4 separate regions of the Homo sapiens genome follow, and regions 2, 3 and 4 are each linked to region 1. The links come from fine-mapping of genetic effects on gene expression. A gene starts in region 1. Each other region holds a variant in brackets. All regions are shown on one strand. Distances are between the middles of the regions.

Region 1 (5,835 bases):
GATTCTAAGACATAGTCAGTCCCTCCCTTCAAATGAGATCAGACTTATTTTCTGCCCCTGCTACACTCCCATACATTTTAGACTAAGAAAACATTTTATTTGAAGTCATGGTCTACGAAGATTACACACAGGCAATTTAGTATCATCTGTGTCCATCTTGTACTATGCCGTATCTCTTTCCATCCAGGAAAACAGAAAGGTCAATTCCTAAGAAATGAAACTGTAACATTTAGAAATACTAGGAATAAGGCAGAACAATAGGTGTAAAACATCTAACAAAGTGAAATTAAAAGACAGTGATACAGGGGTTGTAAATGTCTTCATGACGCTTATAAAATGCACACAAGGATAAAACAGAAATACAAAGGCTGGGCGCAGTGGCTCACGCCTGTAATCCCAGCATTTTGAGAGGCTGAGGTGGGTGGATCACCTGAGGTCAGGAGTTCGGGACCAGCCTGGCCAACATGGTGAAACCCCGTCTCTACTAAAAATACAAAAATCAGGTGGGCATGGTGGCAGGCAAATCACTTGAACCCGGGAGGTGGAGGCTGCAGTGAGCCGAGATCGCAACACTGCACTCTAGTCTGGGTGACAGAGCAGAACTCTGTCTCAAAATAAAAAAAAGAAAAGTAGATGTTATTATCACTTCAAGGTGATAACTTATCCTATCTTATACAGGATGGCACAGCCTTAACTCAAACCCGGAAAAGCCAGACTGCAATTACTGTGCTCTTAACTACTTCACCTTACAACACACTGTGTGAAACTGGATAATGTTAATATGTAACTGAGAGCTTGCTTTTGGTGTACTTATTACAATAAATCAGGCTTCCCAGCCACTGACTGAACATTGTGGATTGGGCCTCAATTTGCTTACCCACAAAATGGAGAAAATAGAATCTTCCGTTTATTCAACCAATATTTATTAAGTACCCATCGTGTGCCAGGCACTATTTTAGGATAATGGAAGATTAAGTGAAAAAATGCAAAATGGTAAATCCACTTTCCCACTACCTTAATCCCTTGCATTTATTTGTAAGGTACAGTGGTTTTATTTATTAAGTATCATTTGATGAATACTATGGAACTAACATAATTCAAGCAAAATTTTGCATTCAATTTCGGCAGATTCACAAACCTCCTAAAGTCCACATATTGCCCTCCATTAAAGTTAAAAACTGTTGCAAAGGGACTTAAACCATTCTGTCATATTGGAAACTCCTTTGGCATTTCCAGCCCACCTAACACAGCAGAGACGAGGGTACTATTATTCATGTGTTACAGACAACTAGAATCGTATATAATCATTGCAGTTTCACAAATAGATCAGGATAAGAATGCCTTTTCCAACTGTCACAGCAGAAGACTCTTCAATTCCGGGGTTAGAAAAGAGAAGTAGGAAGGGGGCCACCAGACTTCTCTTCTGAAAAGAAGGTGAATGACAGACAGCCCAGCAGTTAGGAGCTCATCTGAAAAAAAGATCTGGGTAGGAGCCCAGACTGCTTAGTCACGAAAAGCGACCTAAGACACGTCCCTCCCTGGGCGCAATTTACGTCCGTAAAATGGGGTAATAACCTCTGCTCCGCCTTCCCTGTAGTGGTTCCTACACTATAGCTCAAAGAACGAAACAAGTAGAGTGCTTTACAAATGCAGATGGAGGGAAAGTCATCACTGAGCATCAGGGTGCGGAGGGCAGGAATGCTCCTGCTTCTAGGCTGTTGGCTTCCGCCTTCCCCCCTGCAAACTCAGTTCCCTGCAGCGCGGGAAGCCTTTTAGGAATCGGAGTGTGGAACAGAGGAACGCTCTTAACAGTTCAGAACAGTGCCTGGCACTGAACAGGCGCTTGGTACATGTCAGCTAAAAGAATCAATGACTGAGTCTACAGAGAACGTCCTCAGTTTCAGAGGTTCCGATGCGCCCTCCCCCGAGTCCCTCGCAGCCCGCTGGACGCCACACTCACCCGGCTCCAAAGCTTCCTCCGGCTAGCCGCAAGCCCTCCGTTTCCTACCGCCTCCACTTCGAGAGCTCCGGGGGATGCGGCACCTCTAACCTGCACCAGCAGGGCTCCTTCTACAACTACGGGCCGAAAGCCAGGACCAAAGCGTGTGTCTCACTAGAAATGAAAAGAAGGTGGAAGGAGAAAAGAAAACTTCGCGCCAATCGGCGTGGCCCCGCCCCCAGACCGTCCCTTCGTTGCGACACCAACTAGCTCGCCCCGCCCACTCCGTACACCTAAGAGGGGCGCATGACGTACATCCGCTAACATGCAGCCGCCATCATTGATTCGATAGGCGACGCGGGGAGCGGAAGCCCTTTACACTACGGTGTTTCCGGCTTCAAGATGGTCGCCTAAGCTGTTTAGTGAAACTTCTTCCACCTTTCTCCATTCCTCTAGGTGCTTTTTCTGAACCTGGATGTGAGGCATTAAAGGATCCGACGGAAATAGAATTGAAGGCATTCTAAAATGGCTAACCGTACAGTGAAGGATGCGCACAGCATCCATGGCACCAACCCTCAATATCTGGTGGAGAAGATCATTCGAACGCGAATCTATGAGTCCAAGTACTGGAAAGAGGAGTGCTTTGGACTTACAGGTAAGTGGAAGCGCGCGGAGCGCCTCTCAGCCCCCTTGTGGCCCATTTCTCCTGACCGAGCGCGGGTAGGACTAGCGACTGGCCTCTGGGGGTGGTACTGGAACGGAGTATGTCGATCATTCAGAAAAATTTTGAGTGCCTGCTAAGTGCCTCGTCTTGTGTTGAGTATTAGAGGCACAGATGAATCTGGTAAGGTCATATTCTGAAGGCTGTCTCAGTTGGGTGTTGTGAGTTATTCCGTATTTAATGATAGCAGGCTGGGTTGCAACAGTGTTAAGCTCAGGGATCCGGATATAACACTTTGACACAATCTGTTGAAGGTCTTTAAGGACCTAACGTTAATATGCCTGAAACCAAATTCATGATCTTACTATTCTTAGATCTGGGCCGGTTCCAGTATTTATAAATATCAGTGCTTCAGAGAAGTCTTCCAGGTAATCTTCCGATTTGAATTGTGGCTTTAAATCCATGTCCTGTGACAATCTGTGGACCTTGAGCAAGTCACTTTACCTTTCTTAGCCCTCATTTTCCTTACCTGGAAATAAGAACATTGCTAGAACTTTCTTCATGACTTGTTAAAAAAGGTTAAGTGAGATAATATGAAAAGCTTAGCAGGGTACCTATTTTATTATCCATTCTCAATGTATATTAGCTGTTGTCGTTACTGTTATTAATACACATTCGTTCTCCTAATATTACACTGTTGATGTATATTTAGGAGAACCAAAGCTTGAACTAACTCCACTCCAACTAGGAAGAGCTTAGCCCTAATATGTTACTGTATTGTTTTTGTTTTTTAGCTGAACTTGTAGTCGATAAAGCCATGGAGTTAAGGTTTGTGGGTGGCGTCTATGGTGGCAACATAAAACCAACACCCTTTCTGTGTTTAACCTTGAAGATGCTTCAAATTCAACCCGAGAAGGATATCATTGTAGAGTTTATCAAAAATGAAGATTTCAAGTGAGTGCAATGTTCACTAGCTAATATAAGAGGTTTAATTTTGGCGGTTTAGAATTGGGCTTTGGTTAAGAGGGGTGTACACAATGTATCTCATTTCTAGAGAGTTCCACTCCAGATTTTTGCTTTTGAGCCCTTGAGTTTGTATTTTTTGTTTGTTTTTTGTTTTGGAAACAGAGTCTCTCTGTGTTGCCCAGGCTGGAGTGCAGTGGTGCGATCTCGGCCCACTGCAACCCCCATTTCCTGGGTTCAAGTGATTCTCCTGTCTCAGCCTCCCGAGTAGCTGGGATTACAGGCATGTGCCATCACGCCTGGCTAATTTTTGTATTTTTAGTAGAGATGGGGTTTCACCATGTTGGCCAGGCTGGTCTCGAACTCCAGACTTCAGGTAATCCCCTCCCCCCCCGGGCCTCCCAGAGTGCTGGGATTACAGGCATGAGCCACCACACCCTGCCAAGTTTGTATTTTATCTGTTCTGATTGTATTAATCTTCTACTTTACTTTCTCAGTTTTGGTAATTTTTCCCTGAAAAAGGATTTCACAGATTCACTAAATACATATTAAGCAAAAGTGAGTGCCTGATATGTTGGTAGGCACTGGACGCTCAGGGGTGAAAATCAAACAACAAAAGGTGGTGGTTAAGAGGTGTAAGATCTGGGTTCACATCCAGATTCTGTTGCCCATTAACTATGACATTGGAGAGGTTACTTAATTTTCTAAACTTTGCTTATCTGTAAAATGGTGACTATAATATAAGAGTGAAAGAACGTAATGCATGCAGATCTCTGAACACAGCACTTGCTGCATGGTAAACACCTAGAAAATGTCAGCTTATTACCGTATTACCGATTCTCGAGGAAATCACAAACAAGTATAGGAGACAGACATAATAGCTTCTTATGTGCCATGCTGTAAGGGCTTTGCATATAATAATTCATTTCACTTTCACAACAACCTTCTAAACTTTTAATCCCTATTCTACAGGAGAGGAAACTGAGGCACAGAGATTAATTAATTTTGCCCAAGTTCAAACAGCTAGTAAGTGGCAAATCTGGCTTCAGAGTTCATATTCTTTGCTACAGTATTCTGCTTCTCGTACAAAGAAACTATGACTTTCAAAAGCCTCCTAGTTACCCAAGAGGAAATTTAAGTAGTTAGATATAGGAAAAAGGGAAGAGGAACAACTCTTTTTTTTGTTTGAGACAGAGTCTCGCTCTGTTGCCCAGGCTGGAGTGCAGTGGCGCAGTCTCGGCTCACTGCAAGCTCGGCCTCCTGGGTTCATGCCATTCTCCTGCCTCAGCCTCCCAAGTAGCTGGGACTACAGGCGCCCACCACTACACCCGGCTAATTTTTTGTATTTTTACTAGAGACGGCATTTCACCGCGTTAGCCAGGATGGTCCCGATCTCCTGACCCGGTGACCCACCTGCCTCGCCTCCCAAAGTGCTGGGATTAGAGGCGTGAGCCACCGCCCCTGGCTGGAACGACTCTAATAAAGCATTAACAGCTAGAAAATACCTAACTTTTGTTAGGCACTTACTGTGTGCTCTGTGCTATACTTAGCACTTTCAATGCATTTCTTGTTTATATACCAAGCCATAAATTAGGTAGCATTATCTCCGTTTTACAAGGATTGAGAAAACACATGATTTGACCAGTAGTGTCACAGACTTAGTAAATTACGGAGTCAGAATTTGAACCCAGATGACTTACTTTTTTCCAAAACCAGCAGTCATGTTTATGTGTACTTGTTCTTGTATTGTTATTAAATATATCTTCTTTCTGTTTTAAAATTCAATATATGGCCAGGTGTGGTGGCTCACACCTGTAATCCCAGCACTTTGGGAGGCCAAGGCAGGTGGATTGCTTGAGGTCAGGAGTTCAAGACCAGCCTGGCCAACATGGGGAAACCCCGTCTCTACTAAAAATACAAAAATATGCCAGGCATGGTTGCTAACACCTGTAATCCCAGCACTTTGGGAGGCCAAGGCAGGCAGATCACCTGAGGTCAGGAGTTTGAGACTAGCCTGGCCAACATGGCAAAACCGGTCCCTACTAAAAATACAAAAATTAGGCTGGGTGTGTTGGCACATGCCTATAATCCCAGCTACTTGGGAGGCTGAGGCAGGAGAATCGCTTGAACCCAGGAGGTGGAGGCTGCAGTGAATTGAGATCGTGCCACTGCACTCCAGCCTGGGCAACAGAGCAAGATTCTGTCTCAAGAAATAAATAAATACATAAATAAAAATACAAAAATTAGCTGGGCATGGTGGCGGGCGCCTGTA
Region 2 (5,835 bases), 170 kb after region 1:
AACCTCTACCTTCTAGGTTCAAACCATTCTCATGCCTTGGCCTCCCAAGTAGCTGGAGTTACAGGTGTGCGCCAACATGCCCAACTGATTTTTGTAGAGACGGGATTTTGCCTTGTTGTCTAGGCTGGTCTGGAACTCCTAGCCTCAAGTGATGCACCCTCCTGGGTCTCCCAAAGTGCTGGGATTACAGGCATGAGGCACTGCGCCCAGCTTGTATTTCTCCTAAAATGTCAAAATATCCTCTAGAGCCCTCAGTTAGCTAGGGCACCCCAGGGCTCCTCAAAAGACAATTTGGGAAACACACGTATAAAAGGGAAATCCCCTAACAAACCCTCAGGATATTAACACAGAACATCACAGAATCACAAATAGTGGTCATGATACTAACTTTCTCACCTGCATTAACCAGCCCCAGTTCCAGGCTGTCTTGGGGGAAGTAAAATGATAGGAGAAAATGGCCCTATTTGATGCTAAAATATTTGCAGAGAGCAGGCCTAAAAAGGACACCCCACAGGAGAAAAGTTCACGGGAAGAAAAGCAGAAGCCCTAGGCTGAACAGAAAGGAGAAAAAGGCGGCTGACCCTGCTCCTGAGGAGATGGATGAATGTGAGCAGGCACTGGCTGCTGAGCATCGGATAGCCAAGACCCCTTTGCTCACTTGCCCGAGTACCTTTGTGATGGATGAATTTAAGCACAAGTACTCCTATAAGGACACAATGTGGTGCTGCCGTATTTTCGGGAGCACTCTGATAAGGATGGTTGGTCTGAGTATTGCTTTCCTGAGAAGCTCACCCAGACCTTCTGGAGTTGCAATCTCATCGCTGGAATGTTCCAGCAGTTGAACAAACTGAGAAAGAATGCCTTTGCCAGTGCCATCCTCTTTGGAAGCAACAATATCAGCTCCATTTCTGGAGCCTGGGTCTTCACAGGCCTTGACACTGAGTCCAGATTGGCAGGTGGTCTTCGAGTCATACACGTGGCAGAAACTGGATCCTGGCAGCAAGGAGACCCAGACACTGGTTTGTGAGTACTGTTCCTGGAAAAGGGCCTTCCAGCATGTGGGCTAACTTCAGTCAGGGCAAGATCTTCAAGTAAACAGCTCTTGCCATTGCCTTGCTTCCTGTACCTGTTCTTTAAGGAGATGGGGATCATTAAAAGAAACTGAATATTGAAAAAAAAAAAGTTTAATTTAAGGTCAGTTTTTTCCATTTATGACGACTGAGAAATACCAAGTGCCTACTTAACAAGATTGCCATCCAACATTATTAAAATTTAAAATAAAAATATTGGGCCGGGAGTGGTGGCTCACACCTGTAATCCCAGCACTTTGGAAGGCCAAGGAGGAAGGATTGCTTGAGGCCAGGAGTTCAACACAAGCCTAGGCAGCAAAACAAGATTCTGTCTCTACAAAAAAATATTAAAAATTAGCTGGGCATGGTGATGCATGCCTATAGTCGTAGCTACTCGGGAGGATGAGATAGGAGGCTCGCTTGAGCCCAGGAGTTTGAGGCTGCAGTGAGCTATGACTGCGCCACTGCACTCCAGCCTGGGAAATAGCGTAAGACCCTCACTCTAAAAAATAAAGGAATAAATAAAAGTATTGTACTTTTAGCTACACTAAAAACTTCACAAGGTCATTGTCAGGCCCCATCCTTTCCTCAAAGAACACAGACCTTAGAGTCACATAGATTTGGATTCAAATTTAGACCCACTGCTTTCCACGATCTTGAGCAAGTCTCTCAATCTTTCAGATCACCTTCTCATAAAAAATGTAGACCATAATTCTCACCTCTTAAGTTCTTATGGAAAGTGAAAGAACATATAAAAAGTGCCTAGCACAGACCCTGGCACATAACAGGTGCTCAAGACCCCCTTGCCATTTCCTAAACATGCCTTAGACTTGCATCCTACTAAACCTTTGCAACATGGTGCTTCCTTGGCCTGATAAACCATACTGCTTTTGTCTGCTGCCAAACTCTGTTCATTCTGCGTCACCCAACTTAAATACATTCTTCTCTCTGAAGCTTCCCTTGGCTTCTTTGGAGAGAATGAGTCACTCTGTCTTGTTCAGTTCTGCAGGATTTACCACTATCGCCTCACTTGATCACATTGTGTTGTAATTGCTTATTTATGAATCTTCTCCCTCACCAGATTTTATGGTCCTCCTCCATGGCTGAAGCCACATATTTTCACAGCACCTAGCATGGTACTTGGCCCTCAATAAATGTTTCAATGAATGGAGGAATAATAATAGCAAACAGTCAGTGCTTAATTCTAGGCATTATTCCAAGTGCTTTACAAATATTATTAACTTGTTTAATCTTCATGACAATTCTATGAATTATTATCATTTCTCTCTTACAGATGAGGAAAATGGCACATAGAAAAGTTATGTAATTTGTCTAAGGTCACTCAGCTATTAACTGTCAAAGCCAGGATTCAAACCCAAGCAGTTGGTGTGAGTCCAGACTTTTAGCCAACACACTACAATGCCTCCCAGTGAACAAAGGAATGAACAATCACAAACAAATTTGCTTTTCCCAAATGTCTTTCTTTCTCAGGTTTTGGA[A/G]TGGCTCATCCATTCATTTAACAAACACTTTACATAGAGTTTTCTATGTGTATAATTATCACACTAAACACCAATCTCTGTTTTCCTCACCCCGGCCACACCCCACTTCACACAATCTTCACTGCTTGCCCCTAACCTCGACTGCTCTGTGAATTTCTTTGTTTTGTTTTGCTGGAGACAGGGTCTCACCCTGTCACTCAGGTTGGAGAGTAGTGGCATGATCATAGTTCACTGTAGCCTGGAACTCCTGGGCTCAAATGAGCCTCCTGCCTCAGCCTCCAGCCTCCAGCCTGAGTACGTAGGACTTCAGGTGCCCATCATCACACCTGGCTAATTTTTAATATGTTTTTGGAGAGATAAAATCTAGCTATGTTGCCCAGGCTGGTCTCAAACTCCTGGACTCAAGCAATCCTCCCACTTCAGCCTCCCAAAGTGTTGGGATTATAGGCATGAGCCACCGTGCCCAGTCCTCTTTCAGTTTCTGGAATGTGTTGTGCTCTCTCCCACCTCTGACCCATGACTGCCACATTGACTAACTAACTTGTACTTTTTCTTCAATTCTCAGCTTAAATTGCTTCCTTCTGAAAGACTTCCATTTGCCCCCTAAAGAAAGTTAGGTACACCTGCTCTGGGCTTCCCATGGCACTTGACACTTTCCTCATCATAACATTTTTCATACATACTCTTCTTGCCCATTTGCTTGTCAACCTTCTGCACTAGACTATAAGCTCTACAAGAGCAAGAACTGAGTCTATCCAGGTCGTCACTGAATCTGCAGCACCTAGCCTGATGTCTGGCATATAGTAGGTACCTGACACATATTTATCGAATGACAGATTGAAGCATGAGCAAGACAAAATCTCTATGCTTAAGTCTAGTGGGAGGCCAGGCACTATTCATTCCTATAATCCCAGTGCTTTGGGAGGCCCAGGCAAGAGGATCACTTGAGGCCAAAGGTTCAAGACCAGCCTGGGCAACATAGCAAGACCCCATCTCTACAAAAATAAATAAATTAGCTGGCATGGTGGTGTGTGGTTGTAGTCTTAGCTATTCAGGGGGCTGAGGTGGGAGGATCTCTTGAGCCCATGAGTAATTACAGTAAGCTATGATTGTGCCCCTGCACCCCAGTCTGGGCAATAGAGCAAGACCCTTTTTCTTAAAAAATAAAAAAATACAGAACTCTATTGGGGGAAATAAAAGCCTAGAGGGGATACAGGAAAATAAACACTTGTAGTATATTGTGATAAGTGCTATAATAGAGATCCCAGGGTCCTTCAGGGACATAGAGGGAAAGATTTCTAACTCTACTTGAGGTAAAGTGGAAGGGGGAAAGCTCACCAGAGTCTTAAAGGATAAGTGAGAGTTGAAAAGAAAGAAGTAGTATTAGCCAGGCGCAGTGGCTTATGCCTATAATCCCAACACTTTGGGAGGCCGAGGTGGACGGATCACTGAAGTCAGGAGTTCGAGACCAGCCTGGCCAACGTGGTAAAATCCCATCTCTATGAAAAATACAAAAATTAGCCGGGCGTGGTGGCACATGCCTGTAGTCCCAGCTACTCAGGAGGCTGAGGCACGAGAATTGCTTGAAGCTGGGAGGCAGAGGTTGTAGTGAGCCGAGATCACACCACTACACTCCAACCTGGACCACAGAGTGAGACTCCATCTCAAAAAAAAAAAAAAAAAGAAAAAGAAAGATGTAGTATAGAGGCAAAAAGCAAGAGCAAGAACTGTAATAGAAATTGCTTTTTAGCCTAAATGGCTAAATCATTTTTCTGTGTGTCTAAAAGTAACATTAATCTAAACTTAGTCTTACAATTGGCTTGTTTAGTAAGAATTTGGAAGCAATGTGAAATAACTTAAAAGGCAATTGATGGAATAATGTTATTTCTTAATTATCACTCCTATAAATTCCCATGAAAATCAGTTCTTTATTATCATATTTATCATGCTGCACTACCATTGTCAAAATGTGTCTATCCTACCTGATTGTGAGCTATTTAAGGCCTTGGATTAAAGAGCATTAAGATCTGATTCGATTCTATGTATTCCTCATACTGAGAACAAAGCCAGGCCCAGAGGATCTGTGAATACTCCAGCATGACCACAAAGTCCTAAATGAACTGACCTCCAACAAGCTCTGTTTCTTCTTGCGTCCCATACTCTGTGCTTCAGTCAATATTAAACACCCTTCAGTTCCCTGGACAAAATTTGGCTGCTTAAAGCCTCTAGGCCTTCACACATGCCGACTTCCATTGTCTTCCCACCCATTTCCCAGCGCTTATCTAACTAACTTCTACTCAGCTTTCAGCTTAAACATTACTTCTGAAGGAAGCTTTCTTTGACCTGAAGACACAATTAGACCTTCCTATTATATGGCCTTTAATGCCTTATATTTTTCTTTGGTGTCATTTATCATACTTGTAAATACTTACTCATTCTCTGTCCTTTAGATAGTAAGTTTCATAATTCAGCACTTGGACTAGAGCATATAAGACAGATGCTCAATAAAAATTATTTTGAATAAGTTACTGAAAAAATGAATAAAGTGCTACTATGTGTTTTTAAGTATGATTTTAGTGGCTCGGTTTTCAGCAATCTCTGTGTGGTATCGTGGTAGATTGGAATTAATTAAAATCATTAAATCAAACTAGGGCCAGGTGCAGTGGCTTATGCCTGTAATCCCAGCCCTTTGGGAGGCCAAGGTGGGCAGATCACTTGAGGTCAGGAGTTTGACACCAGCCTGGCCAACATGGTGAAACCCCATCTCTACTAAAAATACAAAAAAAAAAAAAAAAAATTAGCTGGGCATAGTGGTACACACCTGTAGTCTCAGCTGAACCTGGGAGGCGAAGGTTGCAGTGAGCCAAGATCATGCTACTGCACTCTAGCCTGGATGACGGAGTGAGACTGTCTCAAAAAAAAAAAAAAAAATAGACTAATCAAATCAGTGAATCACCATGTAGTGATTTAGTACTAGAAGCACTTCCCATCCACCATTAAGAATCAAGGTTGTGGTCGGGTGTGGTGGCTCACACCTGGAATCCCAGCACTTTGGGAGACCAAGGTGGAGGATAGCTTGAGCCCAGGAGTTTGAGATCAGCCTGGGCAACATAGCAGGACCCTGTCTCCATTAAAAAAAAAAAAAAAAAAAAAAAAAAAAAAAAATCAGGGTTGTTGCTCTGCAGAGCAAGTAGTTGAGGCAACAATGCCTTATCCAGGAAGATTTAGGTGGCCCTCTGTTCATACCACTTTCTTCCCTCTACTCT
Region 3 (5,835 bases), 58 kb after region 1:
AAAATTAATCATTCCACTGAGCAGCTACCACAAAGCAGGCACTACAATGAACTAGAGAAACAGAGGTTCCTGTTCTCACCTAGTTTACACAATTAGCAAAAGAATGAGAAAACTAAATTCAATGTCATAACAAGTGTTATAATAGGAGAAGCGTAAGGTATTATTGGTATTGTTTTGTTTTCTGGGTCAGAAAAACTTATCACTAAACTCAAATATAAGATTTCTTAACTCAGAAATTCTTAACTAGGATGATATGCCAACTCCCATGCCTGGGGCTAAAATCACTGCATTGAGAAATGTTACTGCTGAGAAACTGACTAGTCAGTTGCACATGGGAATAGAATACATACAGGAAAAAAAGACAGAGCCACCCTACTCTGATAGGTATCTATTCAAGCTATATAATACTGAAAGTTTCTTTTTTAAAAGCTCAGATAAACAAAACTGAGACAAAATTTTTCACAAATCTGACATTAGTTATGTTTCATTTTAATTATCATGAACAAAGCAGATCATTAATTTTTTCATAAATACCTTAGCAAACACTTTCATAGTATATCCCAAATACTGCACTCTAGGATCAATAGCTGCATAAGTAGCTAGCATTCTTGTGTTATGTTGAGCCTGAAAAATAATTACATATTTGAAAGGATTTCAAATTTCGTAAAATTAAACTACAAATCAGATTTAAAAGTAAAATACACTCCAAATACAAAATATATAAATGTAAAATGTAAAACACCTATTAATGAGTCAAACAAAAACTGACCTTCAATCTGAAGGAACTATCAAGATAACTAGTAAAATACTTTTTCCTTATACTGTTCACATTTGAAAGTTTTAAACATAGAGTCAGTAATCTGTAAACTTTTAAAATGAAAAGTATATACATGGCCTATAAAGATAAACTTACCAACGTATTATATAAACTGATATCGCCTTCTAACCCACTTCGCCTGTGTTCAAATTTTACTATAGGCACTTTGGCAGTAGTTATAGGCAAAATGTTTCTTAAACCTAATTTAAAAAAAAAAGACTTCAGTAGGTTAAATAATTTTCATATATGCTAAAAAAATTTATTTTGTTTTACAGATAAGATTCAAAATTCATACCTGGATGTCTCTTAAGAATTTTTGCCAAATTTTCAATTATTTCCTTACAATTTAATTTCTAAAAAACAAATCAAATAAATAAGTTTGACTCAATTTCACCTTGTGCAAATTCTACTTTAATCTAAGCATTTAATAGTAGCATTTACAATTTCCAGCCATAAAGCTCTATAATAACCTTGCTACTCCAAGTAAGTGATTCATAGACCTACAGTATCAGCATAATCTGGAAACTTGATAGAAATGCAGAATCTGAGGACCCTCCCCAGTCTACTAAATCATAATCTGCATTTTAACAGGATCCCAAGGTAATTCACATGCAGATTAAAGTTTGAGAAGCACAAAGACAGGAGAAGAATATGGTTTTCAATAAGTGAATAAACAACTAGAGGTGAGTTTGGTGAGGGCAAAACAATATACTGATTAAGTACATAGGCTCCAAATTGAGACAAACCTGGATTCAAATCTTTTTTTTTTTTTTTTTTTTCTTTTTTTGAGACGGAGTCTTGCTCTTTCGCCCAGGCCGGAGTGCAGTGGTGCTATCTCGGCTCACTGCAAGCTCTGCCTCCCGGGTTCATGCCATTCTCCTGTCTCAGCCTCCCGAGTTGCTGGGACTACAGGCACCCGCCACCGTGCCCGGCTAATTTTTTTGTATTTTTAGTAGAGACCAGGTTTCACCGTGTTCACCAGGATGGTCTCGATCTCCTGACCTCGTGATCCGCCCGCCTCAGCCTCCCAAAGTGCTGGGATTACAGGCGTGAGCCACTGCACCCAGTCTCAAATCTTAAACTAAGTATTGATTAGCTGTGTGACTAACCAGATGTTTAACCTCTCTGAGCATTACATTACTATTCTATAAAATCAAGATAATCATAAACTCCTGTCCTGCAGAGCTGTTGGGAGGATTACATGAGACATGTATGTAAAGCACTCAGCAGAATGCCTGGCACAAAATAAGCCTTTAAATCTGTGAGTTATTTATTATAATTATGTTGATATGGAAAAGAAAGATACTCCTATTATCACCAGCACCTATTTCTCCAAGGAAATTCTTACCTCTGTAAATTTAAATGTGTTACTCTTGTAAAAACCAGAGACAGCAGAGTTGGTATGGTAATGATAATCATAATACATAATGATTATGGCATTAAAAATTAACTGGAAATAGCTGAAGGGTATAAACATCAATCCCAAGAGTTATAAAGTCATTTGCATTTTTCCAACATGTTCTTTTTAGCTACATGAGAGCAGGAGCCATTGCAGCTAAACCAAAGGATTTCAAAGAAACCATTAGTTACTAATTCACATATGATAAAATTAACAAAGGAGGTAATTTTTCTCTTTATTATTCAACGATACAATTATGCTAATCTTAAAAGTTTCAATTATGGCTCATCTGAAAGAAAATGATTTATTATTTTCATTGTTTCAACTTCCCAGTAGGAATGGCACAGATTATATATAATATACAAACCCTTAGTGATTAGAAGTTTAATAAATTTTACATAGAAGATATCTAAAACTCTAACCTCTTTCCTGGGTATAAAAATCATTTCCTATTCCCTCAATTCTTACTCTTCAGAATGGAGAAGGGCAGCCACTTTCCAAGTAGGTGGCTCTAAGCAGAATTTAAGTAAAGGAGAACAAATAAAATACTTGCAACTTTTCAGTTTCTTTATAAAACAAGATGTTAAGACACCAGAAGCAACTTCTTATGGCCAGAAGTTAAGTCATCACTGCCATCTTTACTCCGGGTCTAACAATTTCAAAACCACCGTTCAAAAGAATGATTTTAGAAAAGCACACTATTCTGCTGAATTCTTTTATAATGTAACAGAGGCGATACTGACACCACTACAGATGCCAGAAGCTGGGCCTCACCCCAATCTTGCAAACAGTCCCGCATTTTGAAACATAAATAACAATAGCTAGGCTGGTAAAGGACTGAACATCTACAA[G/A]GATACCCTCCTTTGCTAGTTGCTGTTGAGAAGGCCTGGGACACTTCTTCCCTGTCCAATCAGTCTTTTTCTTCCCTGGAGCTTGGACAATCTCCTTCCCACTATTAAGGCCTGGTATACAAAAAAGGAAAGCGTAAGTACCCACTCTTACTGCTGAAATTGCACTTGGGGAAGGTCTGCTCCTGGCATCTCACGGTGGAACTCAGAAAGCTATCAGTTTCAGAAAGCAGTGGTTAGGTTCTACAGTACTATTAGTACTATATTTCAGCTACATTATGGGTTAAAAAAATTACAGAGAGGCAGTGAGATACAATGGAAAGAGCATGAACTCTGGAGTCAGACAGACCTGGGTTACGAATCCCGGCTCCAACAATTACTAGCTGTGTGAACTTGGACAAGTCAGTTTATCTTTCAAAGCCTCAGTTTCCTCATCTGTAAAATGGGGGAAATAATACCTACCTCGAAGGTGGTTGTAAGAATGAAATGAGATAATGTATGTAAAAGTGTATACTGGGAACTCAATAAATGTTAGTTCTCCTCCCCGCCCAAAATGAGTTTCTAAAAGCTATCTTAGCATTTTATTTATTTATTTTTTTTTTAATTTTCTGAGACGGAGTCTCACTCTGTCACCAGGCTGGAGTGCAGTGGCGTGACCTCGGCTCACTGCAACCTCCGCCTCCTGGGTTCAAGCGATTCTCCTGCCTCAGCCTCCTGAGTAGCTGGGACTACAGGCGCGTGCCACCATGCCCAGCTAATTTTTTTTATTTTTCGTAGAGACGGGGTTTCACCATGTTGGCCAGGAGTGTCTTGATCTCTTGACCTCATGATCCGCCCACCTTGGCCTCCCAAAGTGCTGGGATTACAGGCATGAGCTACCACGCCCAGCCCTTAGCATATCATCTGTAACATTGCTTCTATGGAAAAAATTTTATGTGAGTGGTCAAAAATTATAACTAACTTTTAGAACAAAACCAATTATAAATTAGATGACCACCTATATTTACTACCTATAGTAACACAAAGACATCATCTAATGAAAGAGATATGAGAAGACAAAGTATGAAAGATCAATGTTCACTACAAAACTGATGCATCAGCTTCCCATTGGTTCTAGTGAAAAAATTCCAACTTCGTGATATATTTTTTCCCAAAATTCATTACAAATCACTGTAACTCTCAGTGACATGGTTTTTGTATCATAAAATTACTGAAACACTTTTACTTAAGAGTTCAATGTCTTCTAAACTGAAAATGCTACTGTTTTCATATTTCAAACACTTATTTTGCTAATATATTTATACAAAGAGTGATACCACATTTTTATCAATATCACATACAAAAATAAACATAGAATCGTCATTGGGAGAAAATAAACTTACATAACGCTTTCCAAACACTCTTACCTCTGCATTTTCATGGCCTTCCAGGGTCATACAAATATCCAGATCACTATCACGAAATCCAAATCCATTCTTAGAAGAGCCAAATAAGCACAACCTTGCCTTTTCTAAGCAAAGGAAAACAAAGTCCAAGGCCTTATTATAAGCAGAGAGGAGGAGTCTTCTGCTATCTGCTGATGACCTAATACAACATGCTCTTGTCCATTTCTATGATTTAAATTACCTACCACTGGAAGAAATACTGAGAAATTCCAAAACATCTTGAGCCCAAGCTTTTGCCCAAGTTCCCATACCCATGTACCCAACTGCTTTTTCCAATTTTCCACAGACATCATACATTCAACACGTCTGAACTATCAACTTTGCCCCAAATCTATTACTATTTCTATTATCCCTGTTCTTAGCAAATAGTACCATCATGTACACAGATGCCCACATCAGAAATACAGGTGCAATCCTTAATATCTGTCTCTCAATGTCCACATCCAAACAATCATTGAGACTTTTAGCTTTTTCCGACTTACATAATAAATCCATCTGCTTTTATACATTCTCAACATCACTACCAATAGTTAAGATCAATATTTGAGGACTGCCCTCTTAAAAATAAATTAGTTCTTTCAAAGCACAATTCATGTAGGTTTACAAATATCACCTTAGTATACGATGCTCTTCCAAAAATGAGTGATTATAGTCCACTTGATATAAATTATGATAGGGTTAACCCTTCAGACTCAGTGTCATCCAATAACAGCTACCATTTCAAATAAGCTGTGGTTTAACAGAATTGGATTTTTCTTCCTATTACTTTTTTTTTTTTAGAGACAGGGTCTTGCTATATTGCCCAGGCTAGAGTGCACTGGCTATTCACAGGCACAATCATTATACACTACAGTCTTGAACTCCTTGCCTCAAGCAATACTCCCACCTCAACCTCCCAAGTGGCTGAGATAACAGGTGTGTGCCACTGGGCCTGGCTCTTCCTATTAATTCTAAAGTAGACTACACATTTATAGGACACTTTATACTTTCAAAACTTCATACCCCCATCCAGTTCTGATGCTCTACTTGAAATTTCAATGATAGCTGAGAGGCAAAAAAGAAGCTATACTCATCAGCAAATAAAACTGAGCATGATTTTATATAATAGAGACTTAGATTTGGTCAATACTTTATATACTCCTATAATCCCAGCGCTTCAGGAAGCCAACCAATGTGGGAGGATCGTTTGAGACCAGGCTGGGCAACATGGTGAGACTTTGTCTTTACAAAAATTTTTTAAGATAAAAAAGAAGGCGAGGTGCGGTGGCTCATGCCTGTAATCCTAGAATTCTGGGAAGCTGAGGTGGGTGGATCACTTGAGTTCAG
Region 4 (5,835 bases), 210 kb after region 1:
ACCCATCTCTACTAAAAATACAAAAATTAGGCTGGGCGCGGTGGCTCACGCTTGTAATCCCAGCACTTTGGGAGGCCAAGGCGGGCGGATCACGAGGTCAGGAGATCGAGACCAACCTCGCTAATACGGTGAAACCCCGTCTCTACTAAAAATACAAAAAATTAGCCGGGCGTGGTGGCGGGCGCTTGTAGTCCCAGCTACTCTGGAGGCTGAGGCAGGAGAATGGTGTGAACCCGGGAGGCGGAGCTTGCAGTGAGCAGAGATCGTGCCACTGCACTCCAGCCTGTGCACTCTAGCCTGGGCGACAGAGCAAGACTCCGTCTCAATAATAATAATAATAATAAAAATAAAAAAATAAAAATACAAAAATTAGCCTGGCATGACCGGGCACAGTGGCTCATGCCTGTAATCCCAGCACTTTGGGAGGCTGAGGCGGGTGGATCACCTGAGGTCAGGAGTTTGAGACCAGCCTGGCCAACATGGTGAAACCCCGTCTCTACAAAAATATAAAAATTAGTCGGGCATGATGGCAGGTGCCTGTAATCCCAGCTACTCTGGAGGCTGAGGCAGGAGAATCGCTTGAATCCGGGAGGCAGAGGTTGCTGTGAGCGGAGATAACGCCACTGCATTCTAGCCTGGGCAGCAGAGAGAGACTCTGTCTCAAAAAAAAAAAAAATTCACTGAGTAATCCACTAGCCAAAAGTACACCTCAATAACAAATAGGCAAAGGAGATGAATAGATAGTTCACGGAAGACTATAGATGCGTAATAAGGATACAAAAAGATGTCCAGCCTCATTGAAGTTGGAAAGTTTTTTGTTTGTTTGTTTTGTTTTTGTGATGGAGTCTAGCTCTGTCACCCAGGCTGGAGTGCAGTGGCACAGTCTCGGCTCACTGCAAGCTCTGCCTCCCAAGTTCACGCCATTCTGCCTCAGCCTCCCGAGTAGCTGGGACTACAGGCGCCCACCACCACGCTCAGCTAATTTTTTTTTTTTTGTATTTTTAGTAGAGGCGGGGTTTCATCATGTTAGCCAGGATGGTCTCAATCTCCTGACCCAGTGATCCGCCCGCCTCGGCCTCCCAAAGTGCTGGGATTACAGGCGTGAGCCACTATTCCCGGCCGAAAGATATTTTTTTAATGATAATACCCCTGGTTGGCAGGGATGTGAGGAAATGGGCATTCACATAAACTGTGGTACGATAAACTGGCACAAGTGTTTGGAGGGTGATTTGGCAATATCTTTTAAAACAAAATGCTCATACCTTTTGTTTTTGCTTTTTGTTTTGAGACAGGGTCACACTCTGTTGCCCAGGCTGAAGAAGAGTGGCTCGATCGTAGCTTACTGCATCCTTAGCCTCCTGAGTAACTAGGACTGCAGGCACACGCCACCATGCAACATAGTGGGACCCCACCTCTACAAAAAAATATTAGCTGGCCATGGCAGTGCATGCCTGTAGTCCCAGCTATCAGGAGGCTGAGGTGAGAGAATTGCTAGAGCCTGGGAGGTCAAGGCTGCAGCGAACCGTAACCATGCCACTGCACTCAGCCTGGGTGACAGAGGAGACCTTGCCTCAAATTATAAACTAATATGGTTATTAAAATGAATGAATGAAGTCTCCATATGCTACCATAGAAAGTTGTCCAAAAGTGAAAAAATGATAAGTTGTAAAACAGAATGAACACATTCACATACCCAGAAAAACCAGTATGAACAAGTGTAATGTTTTTATTAAAAATGTACAATGTTGCTGGGTGCATTAGGTGGCTCACGCCTGTAATCCCAGCACTTTGGGAGGCAGAGGTGGGAGGATTGCTTGAGCCCAGGAGTTCAAGACCAGTCTGGGCAACATGGCAAGACCGTGTCTCTGCAAAAAAATTTAAAAATTAGCCAGGCGTGGTCACTCACACCTGTAGTCCCAGCTACTCAGGAGGCTGAGGCAGGAGGATTGTTTGAGCCCAGGAGGTTGAGGCTGCAGTGAGCCGTGTTTGCGCCACTGTACTCCAGCCTGGGCAATGGGAGTGGACCCTGTCCCAAATTTTTAAAAAATTTACAATGTTAAGTGGGAGGGAAAGAGAGAGGGAAAAATATAGACCAAACTCTTAATGGTGGTTGTCTGCGAGGGGCTGAGGTAGGATAACAGGAGTCATTTTCATTAAGTTTCTGTAATGTTTGAATTTTGTATGTCAAATCCATATTTCACCTTTATATAAATGTGGAAAGGTGGCTAAAAATTGGGGTGCAGCCTGGGAAACACAGTGAGACTTCATCTCTACAAAAAATCAAAAAATTAGCCAGGTGTGATGGTGCACACCTATAGTCCCAGCTACTCAGGAGGCTGAGTGAGGAGAGTCACTGGAGCCTGGGAGTTTGAGGCTGCAGTGAGCTATGATCACGCCACTGCACTCCAACCTGAGCAACAGACCAAAATACTATAAAAAAAATGGGGTGATGGGCAGAGTCACTGGTAGATAATTCATTGGCCAATAAGAATTTCAGGTGTACTTTATCTAAGGTCACTCTTCTAGAAGTCTGGAGACTCAGATTCAAGTTCCTGTTGTGCCCCTGACTCACAGCAAATTCTTCCCTCTCTCCTGTCCTCCGTTTTCTCACTGGACAATGAAAGGGTTAAACCGTGCTTAGGATTTTCACAGTCTCCCTTCATGGTGCTTCTCAAAAGCTAACAAAAGTAAAGTGAAGGCTGTCCATGGGGTGACCACAGCCCCTCCTATGGTGGCCTCTCAGCTGCCCTTACACACCCTCCTCTTAGCTGCAGCTCTGCATGTACTTGTGTGCATGCACACACACACAGTGAAGCCCAGCTTGCACACATGTTCACACTGGACATCTGGGAACCACAGTCTCCTGCAGCTACCTTCCTC[C/G]CTCCATACCCACTGTCTCCACCACCCGTATGTATGCCTCCCCTCACTGTGCCCACCAAGGCCATCACTTAGTGCCTTATCGTTAAAGCCAATGAATATCTCTCACCTTGTCTTCCTTGACCTCTCAGCTGCATGTGACACTGCAGACTCTGCTCTTCTCCCTGGCACTTGCTCGGTCCTTGGCGTTCCTCTGTCTTCTCTTAGTTTCCCCCATCTCTCTAAGTGTTCCTTCGTTCTCAGTGTCAATGTCTCTCCCTTCTCTATCCACCCCTTCCCTGTTGGTCTTCCATGGGGTTCTAGTCTGATCTAGTTTCTCACCCCATATACCGTTCTGTAGCCAGCTCATTTTTTCCCATGGTTTTGACCACCATCTACACCCTGCTGACACCCAAATCTCTATATCCATGCAGGACTCCCATCCACCTGCCTCCTGGGCATCTCTACAGATACCTCAATTCAACATGGCCAGAACTAAATTCACCCTCATCTTTCCCCAACACATCTGCTCTCCCTTCCATTCTGCCTTGGCAGCCCCTGGAGCTTTCTCTTTCACACACCACTTACTTATCACACTCTATTCCCATCACTTAAGAAACTGCCCTCCCTTCCCTCTCCTGAGCACAGTGCTAGGCCCTTAATAGATGAAATTAAATTATGTCATAAGCCTTTGGAGTACCAACTCCATGCCTGCTCCTGCCTAAGCCCTATCTGGAAACCAAAGATGAGCAAGCCCATTTCCTCAGAAATTTAGAGTCCGTCTGAGGACCTTACGCTCCCAATTAGCCCTGTGTTTCTGTGGACTTTATCAGCTTCTGCTGTTCCCAACCCCCCTCTAATACATGCAAGAGTCCCCTAGGAAAAAGTTACTTTAAATCCTTATCAACAGTCACCTTAGTCATTGGTTAACCAGTATCTGCTAAGATCTTGGTTTTAAATTAATCCCTTGGTTATCAAATAACACTTGAGTAGTTAATATTTGATTATCTACTAACACCACCTTAGTTATCTTCTAACACCTTATTTACAAGCCAAATACTTTATTTATTCAGTTATATCTTAGGATTTAGTAGTTTAAAAGTATTTGCTATGTCTTAGTTATTAATCAAATTTTCTTTTTTTTTTTTTTTTTTTTTAACAAGGTCTTACTCTCTCACCCAGGCTGGAGTGCAGTGGTGCAATCACAGTTCACTGCAGCCTCAACCTCCTAGGCTCAGGCAATCCTCCCACCTCAGCCTCCTGAGTAGCTGGGACCACAGATGCTCACCACCATGTCTGGCTAATTTTTGTATTTTTTGTAGAGATGGGTTTTTGCCATGTTGCCTAAGCTGGTCTTGAACTCCTGGGCTCAAGTGATCTGCTCTCCTTGGCCTCCTAAAGTGCTAGGATTACAGGTGTGAGCCACCACGCCCAGCCTTAATCAATATTTTAGTTACCTGATCCCTTAGCTCTCTGCTGAGTTTAGAGTAGATTAGCAAGTCAGAAACCATCAGTTAGGAGTTTGGGGAAGAGGTCATTTCTGAATATGGAAAAATACAGGCCTTTGTCTTTTACTGAGCTCTCCTCTTACCCCCAAACGATTCTCTTTCAACATCAACTGGCCCCAGGTCCTGAGAGAAAAGGAGGTCCCATCCTAATTGCTTATTTGTTTCTCTGAGCCAGGCTGTAGGGGACTTCCTGGAATGTTGTGATTGGCAGGGACTTTCATTCATCAACAAATGTTTCTTGAGCACTGCATATCTGTCAAGTTCTCCCTAAGTTCTAACTGTACATCAGCAAACAAAATGGGCATGTTCCCAGCTGCTATGGCTCTTAGAGAACAGTGGAAAAGATAAACATTAAACAAATAGTTATTCTGATTATTATGTGATTACAATTATGATAAGCACAGGGATTATGATAAGTACAGGGAGCTGTGAGTGTGTATAAAAGTGGCACTTGACCTATTGTGGGATTCAGAGACTTCCTTGAGGAATGACATTAAAGCTGAAAGCTGAAATTTTAATAAGAGTTAGGGAAAAAATGGTAAGGAAGTCCTAAGCAGATAGAGTGGCTTGGGCAAAAGCCTAAAGGAAGGAAAAGGCTGATATGATAGAGCTAGTGCTGCCTGGAGCCACATGATAAGGAGAAGGACCAGAGAAGTAGGCAGATGCCAGATCATGCAGGGCCTTGTGGAATCTAAGTGAGAAATGATGTGACCTGGCCTAGCATGAAGCGTCTGTCTTCTATTGGTATAAGAAGATCTTCCTTAGAGTCCCAAATCTGACGGCCAGAAATAAACCCTGGGGCAGAGGCAGTCATTGAACCACTGGTAGAAGAAGGCTGCAGCTGAATGCAGTGGCTCACGCCTGTAATTCCAACACTTTGGAAGGCTGAGGAGGGTGGATTACCTGAGTTCAGGAGTTCGAGACCAGCCTGACCAACATGGCAAAACCCTGTCTCTACTAAAAATACAAATATTAACCGGGGGCAGTGGCTTGTGCCTGTAGTCCCAGCTACTGGGGAGGCTGAGGCAGGAAAATCGCTTTAACCTGGGAGGCGGAGGTTGCAGTGAGCCCAGATTTCACCACTGCACTCCAGCCTGGGCAAGAGTGAGGCTCCATCTCAAAAAAAAAAAAAAAAAGGAGTAGGCTGTTCTGCTTTGGGGGCTGCCTGGAGGACAGGTCACCACGGAGACACCTGTGAAAAGCAAGCAGCCCTGAAATTCCCCAGCTCTCTAGCTGAGCCAGCCAAGGGGTAGCTGAGAAGATTGCCAAGACTGGAGTCCCTACTAACCACCTGCTTTCACGGATTCCTGGACACCCCTGGAGTGATTACATTGCAGATAGTCCATTTTTTTTTTTTTTTTTTTTTGAGACAGAGTCTCGATCTGTCGCCCAGGCTAGAGTGCAGTGGTGCAGTCTTGGCTCATTGCAACCTCTGCCTCCCCAGTTCAAGTGATTCTCATGCCTCAGCCTC

Direction of the effects. Positions count from the first base shown, and alleles are read on the strand shown. Sizes are in standard deviations (SD) of each study's normalised expression. Not every link is listed here.
With allele A in place of G in region 2, the expression in atrial appendage of the gene that starts at base 2,317 in region 1 is lower (small effect, 0.29 SD a copy in GTEx).
For the expression in monocytes of the gene that starts at base 2,317 in region 1, allele G in region 4 goes with a higher level than allele C (moderate effect, 0.72 SD a copy in Fairfax 2014).

The links. PIP is the estimated chance that this variant, and not a neighbour inherited with it, causes the effect.
Region 2: its variant is the best candidate, but not a certain one, in a credible set for the expression of PRPF38A in atrial appendage (GTEx, PIP 0.90).
Region 3: its variant is the best candidate, but not a certain one, in a credible set for the expression of PRPF38A in whole blood (INTERVAL, PIP 0.55).
Region 4: its variant is the best candidate, but not a certain one, in a credible set for the expression of PRPF38A in monocytes (Fairfax 2014, PIP 0.70).

The regions. Positions count from the first base shown.
Region 1 is chr1:52,402,286-52,408,120 of GRCh38, forward strand. PRPF38A (pre-mRNA processing factor 38A) reads left to right here and starts at 2,317. Exons shown (of 10, transcript NM_032864.4): 1 at 2,317-2,594; 2 at 3,395-3,554. The coding sequence starts at 2,465. ORC1 (origin recognition complex subunit 1) reads right to left here and starts at 2,138. Exons shown (of 17, transcript NM_004153.4): 1 at 1,961-2,138. RefSeq lists an enhancer at 1,637-2,836.
Region 2 is chr1:52,572,727-52,578,561 of GRCh38, forward strand. It overlaps the pseudogene EEF1GP7. Among named protein-coding and RNA genes, the nearest start is that of TUT4, 23 kb to the left of the region's middle. The variant A/G (reference allele first, on the strand shown) is at 2,570.
Region 3 is chr1:52,460,600-52,466,434 of GRCh38, forward strand. It overlaps TUT4 (terminal uridylyl transferase 4), which reads right to left. Exons shown (of 30, transcript NM_001009881.3): 16 at 4,471-4,574; 17 at 1,113-1,170; 18 at 914-1,017; 19 at 535-624. Among named protein-coding and RNA genes, the nearest start is that of PRPF38A, 59 kb to the left of the region's middle. The variant G/A (reference allele first, on the strand shown) is at 3,068.
Region 4 is chr1:52,609,264-52,615,098 of GRCh38, forward strand. No RefSeq gene overlaps it. Among named protein-coding and RNA genes, the nearest start is that of GPX7, 9.8 kb to the left of the region's middle. The variant C/G (reference allele first, on the strand shown) is at 2,881.